Homo sapiens: one gene and its partners. The protein of the gene in region 1 purifies or fractionates together with the protein of each later gene. This does not show direct contact. Each region holds a gene or a part of one and is shown in the gene's direction. Other genes may lie near its edges.

Region 1 (3,734 bases):
TTTTGTTCTCTCTGGAAACACACTGCTTGGGTCATCTACTACACTGATTTCAAGGTGCCCTGCAACCCTCATGTTGTTTTTAGATAGATATTTTATAGAGCAGATCAGGTGAGGTGCCTGGCCTCTGGAGGGAAACCAGAAAGAACATCAGCCAGCACCCATGGCTAAAGCTTAGGCCCATTAACCAGACAGTCTTGGCTGAAGTTAGGGGAAGAGCACAACCCTGTGGGTATATGTGTGTCCACGGCCCACCTTGGTTTAGGGAGATATTCCAACTCTCCATGGGTCTCATGGTACCAAATCTCAGCCCTCAATGGGTCTCATGGTACCAAAGCAGACTGGTGGAGTGAAAAGATTTGGGCTTGGCAGCCAGAGAGATGTAAATTGGACCTCAGTTCTGCCACAAGGCCTCCGGCAAGTCACTAAACCACTCTGATCCTAGGTTTCCTCATTGTAAAACAGTGATAATGACTTCTCCCTTGCAAAGTTAGCATACAGGTGAATACTAAAGTAAAGCCCTAGCATATAGTAGGATTTCAAAATAGTCCATTATTGGTCCAGAACTGGCCAGCTGCCTCAAATGGACTTTCTTTAGGTGCTTGGCTGAGCCTGAGGATTAAAGGCCATTAGTGATGGAAGCTTTGGGCAGTTTCCTGAGTAACCATGGGGCAAGTCTGCTAATCTCTGAGACATGACTTCCTCATCTGCACTGGAAATCATAGTAATTAATGTGCCTTTCTTACTTCTCTAGATTGTTAGAGGATAACAGGAGACAGAGGCTGTGAAAACATTTTGTCATGTGAAAAGTGGTATACAGAAGTTATTGTTATAAAAACAATAGTAACAACATTAATTAACATTTTTGAGTGCTTACTTTTTGCCAAACACTGGTTGAAGTGCTTCCCAGATGTCACTCACTTTCATTTTAATCCTCTTCTAACAGTTCCCTCAGATGGAGCCCTGTTTATTATTTTGGTTTTTCCGTTGGTTAAACTGAGGTACAAAGAGGTTAAGTAACTTGCCCAAAGTCACACAGATAGGCAAGGGGCTGACCTGAATTCAAACCCAGCCAATCAAATTCCAGAACCTGTCCAATGCAGTATTAATCACTATGCTTATAGTGGCATTGTTATGTGATTGCTATCTCTAAGTTTCTCTCCACAAAGGGTACATAGTTATCTATTCTCAATGAATGATATGGGGCTATAAAGGCATGATAATGGCTCCATAGAGCCATCTGCTAATTAGTCTCCCTCCTTTCTGGGCATACCTCAAACATCTTAGGAACATATGTGCTTATATCCATGAGCAAACACATTCGTGGATTGAGTATAGATGTATATAGATTGGAGAAACATGCCCAAAGATAGAGATCAAAATATAAATGTTAGGAAGCAAAGCATTAGCAAGATCATTTATGGGCTCATGAATCTGTTGTGAAGGATAATTATTCATTGGCTTAAGTGAGATGGAAAGTGTCATTATGGTAATGCAGTAGTCATGCTTAATCTGTTTCCTACTGCACATGTGATAAATGCCATTCATATGTGAGACACACTCCTGTGAGGCTGCCCAGACATTAACAATGTTCCTTCTGAATTTGGGGGGACGGAAATTAAAGCAAATAATGAATCAATTATTTTTAGCATTTATGAACTCATTTTACAGACATTTGGGCAATTAAATTACCCGGTTAAATAGCTCAGAAAAATGTTACTTTTCAATAAACTTCCATTAAATTCAACAAATTTGTGGCGTTCTACCTGTGCTGTCCAGTACAGTAGCCACTAGCCACATGTGGCTATTTAAATTTAAAAATTCAGTTTTCAGTTGCTCCAGCCATGTTTCATGCATTCAGTAAGCCCTGTGTGACTAGTGGCTATCAATCAGACAGTGCAGATTATAGAACATTTCCATCATTGCAGAAAGTTCTGGTGGATAACACTGCTAGACAGTAGTATACACTGAGGATGCAGTGATGACCAGAACATTCCCATCCCTGCCCTTATGGGGCTGATAGCTCTGCTGAACAAGTTACCCCAGACTTGGACCTACGGAAGGACATAGGACAATGAGAAAGTATGGCAGGGGATCTATCCAAGAAGGGGTGCTTAGGAAAAATGAAACCAAAGAAAGCTCCCTACCCATGAATAACAGAGCACGTTTTTAAAAGAAATCAAACTTAATTAAAAATAAATAAATAATTTTATCTGCAATTGGATTCTACAACTAATATTAATATTGATGTTTAAATACTTGATTGAAGAATAAGCTTAAATAAAACTTATTTTGTTATTAAAATTCATAGTGCAATAAATCTTAAGAGGAGCCAAAGCAAAATATACATGCAGCATGATTCCATTTATATGAAGTTCTGAAACAGGCAAAATTAACCTATGGTAATAGAAATTAGAACCTTAGTTGCTTCAAGGTGGGGTGGGAGGGAGTGGTTGGGAGCAGGGACCAACTACAAAAGATTGTGGGGGTACTTTCTGGGTTGTTGATGTTCTATCAAGATAGGGACATTTGTTACATGAGTATATGCATTTGCCTGTACTCATAGAACTGTATAACTAAGATCTGTATATTGCACAGTATTGTATATGAATTAATCTATATATATGTGATCAAAATAATTACATATTGTAACATGTTATGGTTGATATCAGTAATATTATGGAAATGTCCATTGCTTTATTACTCTGTCTGCCTCTGACCTGGCCTTCATAACCTTATATTGTCAGTAACATGAAAGTTTCAGGCATCCTTTCTGATCTTGTGCCATGTGGATATGAATGTGTTGCTCCTACTTTTCCAATTTTTGATGCTTTCTTTCTTATCAAAAGTGAGCAAACTGGAAGGATGTTTGCCAGGATGTTAAAAATGGTGTTATTTTTGGGTGGGGAGATTTGAGGTGAACTTTATTTTCTCTCTTTTGCTATGCTGGAATTTGGAACAAGGAGTGTATATGATTTTTTGATCTGAAGCACAAAAGCTTATCCATGTAGTCTTTTGGAGACTTTGGGTTCTATACTCTGATTAGTGACAAATTTTCTTCCAAGCAGCAGGCTCTATGGGTGGTTATTTAGCAGTCCTCTGGTCTTAATCAATGTGATTGTTTCTTTCCTTGTCTGTCTCACCTGCCTCTCCTGCTCAGCCTCTCTGTGATCCCAAGGGTACACTGGAGGGGATTTGGCTGCTTGGAAGCCCTCTCAAGCTGTCTGCCCCTCTCACCTGCCTCCTCTCTGTGCTCACAGATTCTTACCTGACCCTCGATGAACCAATGAATAACATCACCACGTCTCTGGGCCAGACAGCAGAACTGCACTGCAAAGTCTCTGGGAATCCACCTCCCACCATCCGCTGGTTCAAAAATGATGCTCCTGTGGTCCAGGAGCCCCGGAGGCTCTCCTTTCGGTCCACCATCTATGGCTCTCGGCTGCGGATTAGAAACCTCGACACCACAGACACAGGCTACTTCCAGTGCGTGGCAACAAACGGCAAGGAGGTGGTTTCTTCCACTGGAGTCTTGTTTGTCAAGTTTGGTAAGCAGACCCCTACTGGGGATGGACTTTGGCCCTCAGCCCAATGTGGTAGGATGGCTAGAGTCCACAGGGACAGGAAGGAAGGAATGCACACTTAGTGAGAATGTACTCTGTGCCCACAACCCTAAACCTGGTATGGTTGTACCCATTTTACAAATAAGTAAACTAAGGCCCAGCAGTTAGTTACCA
Region 2 (3,734 bases), on another chromosome or scaffold:
TTACATAAAATGCTAAGGTAGGTAAAAATGTGCCACACTTCTTAAAATTGTTGCTTTTACCTAAAGGGTTTTCCATGCCATACTTACTATTCTTGGTTTTTGTTTTTTGAAATGAAATGCTGTATGTACAGTGTGAGCTGTTCTCTAAGCATGATTTTCTACTACTGGTAGATGATGAGTCAGTCTTCACCACTGTCATCACCTACCCCACCCTACTTCCAACTCCCTAAAAGTCCACCATTCCTTTAGAGTTGTAGTATATTTATATCAATTACTGATAACTTTAGTGTAAATTAGGTTTAACCATTGTTTGTAATAAAACCTACCACTTTGTTGGGAGTAACTTTTAGAGGAAGAGATTCATGGGGTGAAATCTCACAGTCCCGGAAGCATGGGTTATACTCAGCTATTTAGTCAGGGTGTGCCAGCGATGAGTTTGCATGTTAGTACTTGTGATCCTTTTTCTCCCCTGTGATGTAGATTTGGTTTCCTTATTTCAGAGCTGGGAAAACACGTCAAGATAGATTAAAAGTAATCTGCCCGATACATAAAAAATCAACAACAACAAAAAAGTAATCTGCCCAAGATTATACAGCTAGGAAGGGTGAGGCCAGTATTTGAACCCAGGCTTTTTACTTGGTATTACAATTAATGAATTAAAAAAAAAGATTATAGGTATTTATTTATTTATTTATTTTTGATTATAGGTATTTATTTTTAAAAATCTTTATTTTCTTCTTAGCTTTGGCTTCAGTGACAAAGTCACCATGAATGGTCATGTCCCAGTTGGATTATATGGGAATGGCTTCAAGTCGGGTTCTATGCGTCTGGGTAAAGACGCAATCGTTTTTACCAAAAATGGAGAAAGCATGAGCGTGGGCCTTTTGTCTCAGACCTACTTGGAAGTCATAAAAGCGGAGCATGTTGTTGTTCCAATAGTGGCATTCAACAAGCACCATATCCTTTTGGTTGTGAAATAAAAGCTGTGGAGAAACTGAAGAAATAATTTGGAAACATTCTATGTTTTTGCCTTCTTCCAGATTATTCCCTTTGAATAACACCTATTCCATTTCTTACCTCTGTCCTCTGCATTTACCCTACACCTGAGGCTAAGGGTTTGTCCCTTTCTCTTCTCTGTTGGAATCCTGCTATGGAAATACTCAACATTTTATGTTAAACTTCCCATAGCTCTTCTGTTTACTTCAGGGTTATTGTAGACTAGTAAGACTTTATGGTTTGGCTTGAAAATTTGACTAGTGACCACAAAAGGCAGGATAACTTTAGGAAAATGCCTTTTGTATGAACACATTGGAATATTAGAAAGTATTAAGTTAGTTAGGAATAATAATCTGCTTATTTTTTATTCTTCTTCTTGTTCATTTGAAATCAAACTGCCATGTTAAAACTTAGAAAATAGGCTGAGCTCGGTGGCTGATCCCTGAAATTCCACCACTTTGGGAGGCCAAGACAGAAGGATTGCTTGAGCCCGGAATTTTGAGACCAGCCCAAGCAACGTAGGGAGACCCTATCTCTACAAAAAAAATTTAAAAATTAGCCGGTCGTGGTGGTGGGTGCCTGTGGTCGGTCCCAGCTAGGCTGCAGTTAGCCCTGATCATGTTACTGCACTCTAGCCTAAGCAATAGTGAGACCCTATCTCACAAAAAAAAAAACCTTAGAAAATTATTTATAAATAGTTTTTCTGTTATTTAAGTTTATAGAGTTAGTTTTCATATTGTAATTATGAAAACTATGTTGTCAATCTGAGTCTTTAACTTATGATATACGACAGATGATTAATTTAGCAGAATCAAAAGCCAGCCTTGCTGCAATTCTGGAACATTCTCTGTTTTCCACGGAACAGAAGTTACTGGCAGAACTTGATGCTATTATAGGCAAGAAGGGGACGAGGATCATCATTTGGAATCTTAGAAGGTAAACGTGGACATAGATGTTGACCGTTTGGGAAGTAAAGTGCACGTGCAGGGTGGTGGTGTTATATTCATCTCTCGTTACACACAGTAGAAATACATGGAAAGGTACTCATTTTTTGGTGTAGTTACTGATTTGTCTTTGCCCAGGATATGTTATAGAGGCCATTTCAGCTTCAATTTGAGATATTTTCATCTTGTTAAAAAAAATTTTTTTTTGAGACGAAGTCTCACTCTTGTTCCCCAGGCTGGAATGCGATGGCGCAATCTCAGCTGACTGCAGCCTCCGCCTCCTAGGTTTAAGCGATTCTCCTGCTTCAGTCCCCCGAGTAGCTGGGATTACAGTCGCCTGCCACCATGCCCGGCTAACTTTTGTATTTTAGTTGAGACAGGGTTTCACCATGTTGGCCAGGCTGGTCTAGAACTCCTGACCTCAGGTGATCCACCCGCCTTGGCCTCCCAAAGTGCTGGGATTACAGGCGTGAGCCACCACACCCGGCCAAAAAAAAAAATTTTTTTCTATCCCTGCCATTCAGTCTCCATTAGCACTCTATTCTCTCTCATTTATTCCACCCCGTCTTCTCAAAAAAAAAAAAAAAAAAAGAAAAAAGAAAAAAAGCAATGAGAAGACAAATTCAGGAGGATAAATCTTTCTTCATTGTGTACATTACTTAAAACTAAAAGTGATGTAGCACCTGATGAGAAAAGTAATATAGGTGAGATTTTTGTGTTGCTAAAATTTATAATCCTTTATCTTTGTGAGGATAAAATCCTTCGCAAATAAATTTTAAAATTTAAGACTAATGTCTAATACTGAAAGATCTAAGACATACTGAATCACAGGAATAAAGCACAGGTAGTGATAAGCCTAAAGAACTGAAAAAACTTGTGCTATTCTGATACCTGAATTCGTTTTTCTTGCTTTCACTTCCCTACCCCTCCTTCTCCTGGAGGATTTTTTCAATTATACTTTCTGAGGTAATTGTAGATTCATGTGTAGTTGTAAGAAGTAATAGAGAGATGTTAGGTACACTTCATTCAGTTTCCCCTGCTGGTAACATCTAACAAAACTATAGTACAGCCAGGCACACTGGCTCACACCTGTAATCCCAGCACTTTGGGAGGCTGAGGCGGGTGGATCATGAGGTCAGGAGATCGAGACCATCCTGGCTAACACGGCGAAACCCTGTCTCTACTAAAATTACAAAAAATTAGCTGGGCGCGGTGGCGGGCGCCTGTAGTCCCAGCTACTAAGGAGGCTGAGGCAGGAGAATGGCGTGAACCAGGGAGGCGGAGCTTGCAGTGAGCCGAGATAGCACCACTGCACTCCAGCCTGGGCGAAAGAGCGAGACTCTGTCTCAAAAAAAAAAAAAAAAACTATAGTACAGTAGTACTATTGATATTGACAGGATTTTGATGTTGATACAGTCAAGATGCAGGACACTTTAGTCATCACAGGAATCCCTCATGTTGCTCTTTTGTAGCCATACCCACTTCCCTCATAACCCCACTCCCTCCTTAATCCGTGGCAACCTCTAATCTGTTCTCTATTTCTATAATTTTGCCATTTTAAGAATATTACATAAACAACATGGAAACCTTTTGGATTTGACTTTTTTCACTTAGCATAACTCCTGGCGTTTTCCAGGTTCTTGTATGTATAGTTTGCACCTTTTCCTTTTTCTTTTTTTTTTCTTTCTTTTCTTTTCTTTCTTTCTTTCTTTTTTTTTTTTTTGAGATAGCGTTTTGCTCTTTCCCCCAGGGTGGAGTGAAGTATAGCGCCATCTCGGCTCACTGCAACCTCCG
Region 3 (3,500 bases), on another chromosome or scaffold:
TTGTACATAAATGAAATCATACTATATATACTATTGTGGAACCTGATTTATAATTAAAAATATAAAGTATTAGATTTTTTCCAGTAACTATAAATCCATATTATCATTTTTAATGGTTGTATAATAATCCATTGTATCCATACCCACTAAGTAAGGAAAAGATGATGGTTATTTGAGGATAACCAGTTAGTCTAGAAATTCTCTTATTAAAATTCGAATGTTTGAGTATCTCTATTAGTAAGTAGTAGAGTAAGTCAGGTTTTTTGTGGTTTCTTTTCTCTTCTCAGTGTTAGTATAGACACCATTGCTTGAATAGCAGCTGTTGTCTCTCCTTCCCCCTAGGAAGTTTGGAGTAACTGTCCTCTAGCTTCAAAGCAAACGACCTTCCTATTTAGTGGTGACATGGGAGAGCAGTAGCAGCCCTAATTAAACCTTACAGCCCTGGACAGTGCTCACAGTGTGCAATTTTGAGGATTCTCTGTGTGGTACAATATGTAAATGACTCTTAAGAGGCTTACAGGGAATAGCAAATGGATGCAAAATTTTATTAAGATCTTTCTGCTCCATTGGCAAATAAATTAGAAATGCTTTTGGTTGCTTTATTACAGTAATACCCTATGCAATTTTGCTTACTAATCAGCAGAGATTATCTCTAACATAATAATTACTCAATAACTAATGTTGTTTATCTAGTATACTACATTTTGGGAGACAGTTACTAGATTATGAATATCTTAGCTGCCAAATACACTTGGACATTAATTTATTCTAGGGACTTAGCTTCATGAGAATGTTTCAATTGCATAGAAATAATCTATCTGTTCTGTTTTTAAAGAAAATCTTCTTTCACAGAAAGAGCTATCTGTTTTTATGTTGACAGTGTAAACTATATCTAATTTATTCTTGTATTGACAGTTACACTTTTTTTTTGCTTTTTTATGCTTTAATGTTCTTCATTAATAAGTATTTGGAAATATACATGAAATATACCAAGATAAACAGGCTGTATCTTGTTATACATACCAAAGGCTAGCCTAACCCATGATACTTTCATGGCAGGTTTTTGAGATGGATATTTCTAAGCAGTTGCATGCCTATGAGGTGGAATATCATGTGCTACAGGATGAGCTTCAGGAATCTTCATATTCCTGTGAGGATAGTGAAACTTTGGAGAAGCTGGAGAGGGCCAATAGCCAACTGAAAAGACAAAACATGGACCTCCTAGAAAAATTACAGGTAAAGAAATAAAGATTTGAGCAAATAAGTACTTCAATGCCTCCTGCATGCACAGAACTACCTCAGGAATGAAAGGGATATGTGCGTGGAATGAACCATTGCTAACCAAGAGCCCATGTATCAGACTGTCCAAGTGCTCTGGGGCTACAAATGACATGTTAAATTAAACATTACTTGGAAAAAAATGCACCCTCACAAAATAGCTAAATGGCAGTTCAAAGTGGAATCTGCTTAAATACCTGTTGCATGTTATAGATATTTGGTTAAATTAAAGGGAGGAGGAATTGAATGTAGGAAATTGATGAAGTTGTGAAGGACCTGGGCTTGAGCTGGAATCTGGAGGGTTGGTGGAAGAAATGAGTGAGGAGGGTCTTTAAGTCAGGCTGAGTAGGAGGGTGGCATCAATCAGAAGGACATGGCAGAGCAGCAAAGTTAGCCTAGTGTCAATTTAAGATAGAGGTTGGGGAGAGGTAGGGTAAATATGATAGAGGCAGAATCGTAAGTGACTTTCAGTGTCAAGCCAAAGAACATGGCTTTAATCCTGTCAAGAGGGAAATCTCTCAAAGTTTTTGGGCCATGCTGTAGAAAGATCAATCTGGGAACCTTGACGAGGACAGATTGAGATGGGAGAGAAGGTAAGGAGGCCTGCTAAAAGTCACTTGTGAAAATCTGTTGCGGATGATGAGAGTTGTCTAGACTAAAATGGAAATTGGAAGAGAGGGAGACATGTCTAGGTAAATTGAATCCCATGCAAATGTTACATGTAATATTAATACATCATTCCTGCCATCAGGGAGTTCACAATTATTTGAGAATATAAAATACTATATATCTGTCTCTAAGCGCACACTTATACATGCAATAAGAAATTTATTATAAAGTCATATTCGGTATTTGCAACTTGTATGATGTGTGCTATGTAGCCATGCCCTGAGGGGAGGGGCTTAAGAGTGATCACAGGATGGGGGCTAGCAGGTGACCCTTCTGAAGTCTTCGGGGAGATGACTTCAGGGGAGTTTCAGTGTCTAATGGCTCCTCGGTTTCCACTTACTCCTCCTCTCCATTTCCCCAACACTGCACCTGGCTACAAACTGGAAAACACTAAAACTCTGCTTCTATATGGTGAGTCCCCTGTCAAGACCAGTCAAGAGAGACAGGTTAGAAATGAGGGATCTCTAAAGTAGTTGCTTCCCAAGAATGGGAACACTAAACTTCCTTCGCTTTGTCTTACATTGGCTCTGGCTCATAGAAAATGTAAATCTTTTTTTCTATTCAAAAAAGGGCAACATACTCTATTTTCAAAAAGAAAACTAAATGGTTAGTATATTGTCCATTTTTAGTTGGATAGGTCAATGGCGATTAATTATTTGCCCCTTATTAGGGAAGGTGGGTTTGTACCTGTTTTATAATGATTCGTCTGAACTGTTGTAGACTTTTTCACTGACAGTTCAGTGTAGTCATCATCAGTTACTTGGCCACCCCTCACATCTATAAATACTGATGAAAGCCCAAGTGTATGTTTAGAGAACGCCGTATTTCAGTCAGAGAAGGAAAATCTCTTTTAGCACTGCAATAGTGTCAGGAATCTCCTGTTTCTCCTTCAGCCAGGCCAGATCCCACTCACTCAGGGGAACACCAGTGGGTGTAGAATAAGGATTCCTACTGTTGGTGAGGGGGGTGATTTAGTATTGAATTATTCGTGTGTTCAGTGAGAAGAGATGAAGCATGGTAGTTCCATAGTTACATCTTTGTGAAACCTAATAAATCATCGTTTCCTGTAGGTTTTCAGAGTATTTGCTTCACATAATATTTTATTAAGTAATTTGAAGTAATTGGTTAATATGTGTAAGGACTGTCTCCTACTATAATGAATCATTTGATTTGGAGGATTTTTTCCCCCCCAAACAGGTAGCTCATACTAAAATCCAGGCCTTGGAATCAAACCTGGAAAATCTTTTGACGAGAGAGACCAAAATGAAGTCTTTAATCCGGACCCTGGAACAAGAAAAAATGGCTTATCAAAAGACAGTGGAGCAACTCCGGAAGCTGCTGCCCGCGGATGCTCTAGTCAATTGTGACCTGTTGCTGAGAGACCTAAACTGCAACCCTAACAACAAAGCCAAGATAGGAAATAAGCCATAATTGAAGAGGCACGGCCTCAGCAGAAAGTGCTCCTTAGAATACTACAGAGAGGAAGAGCCTGCATGTCGCTGGCCCAAGGCTGGACCCTGAAGCTGATGGAACCACCTAATACTGGTGCTGAG

The links.
Region 2: the proteins of ROR1 (region 1) and MORC3 purify together in Homo sapiens (affinity purification with mass spectrometry; one study listed by BioGRID and IntAct). This does not show direct contact.
Region 3: the proteins of ROR1 (region 1) and TBC1D4 purify together in Homo sapiens (affinity purification with mass spectrometry; one study listed by BioGRID and IntAct). This does not show direct contact.

The regions. Positions count from the first base shown.
Region 1 is NC_000001.11:64,046,434-64,050,167, forward strand, and holds part of ROR1 (inactive tyrosine-protein kinase transmembrane receptor ROR1 isoform 1 precursor), read left to right. Parts: intron 1-3,257; coding exon 3,258-3,545; intron 3,546-3,734. UniProt on the Homo sapiens protein: Has very low kinase activity in vitro and is unlikely to function as a tyrosine kinase in vivo. Receptor for ligand WNT5A which activate downstream NFkB signaling pathway and may result in the inhibition of WNT3A-mediated signaling.
Region 2 is NC_000021.9:36,336,990-36,340,723, forward strand, and holds part of MORC3 (MORC family CW-type zinc finger protein 3), read left to right. Parts: coding exon 1-17; intron 18-742; coding exon 743-957; intron 958-1,784; coding exon 1,785-1,932; intron 1,933-3,734.
Region 3 is NC_000013.11:75,286,670-75,290,169, reverse strand, and holds part of TBC1D4 (TBC1 domain family member 4), read left to right. Parts: intron 1-1,059; coding exon 1,060-1,236; intron 1,237-3,144; coding exon 3,145-3,378; 3' UTR 3,379-3,500.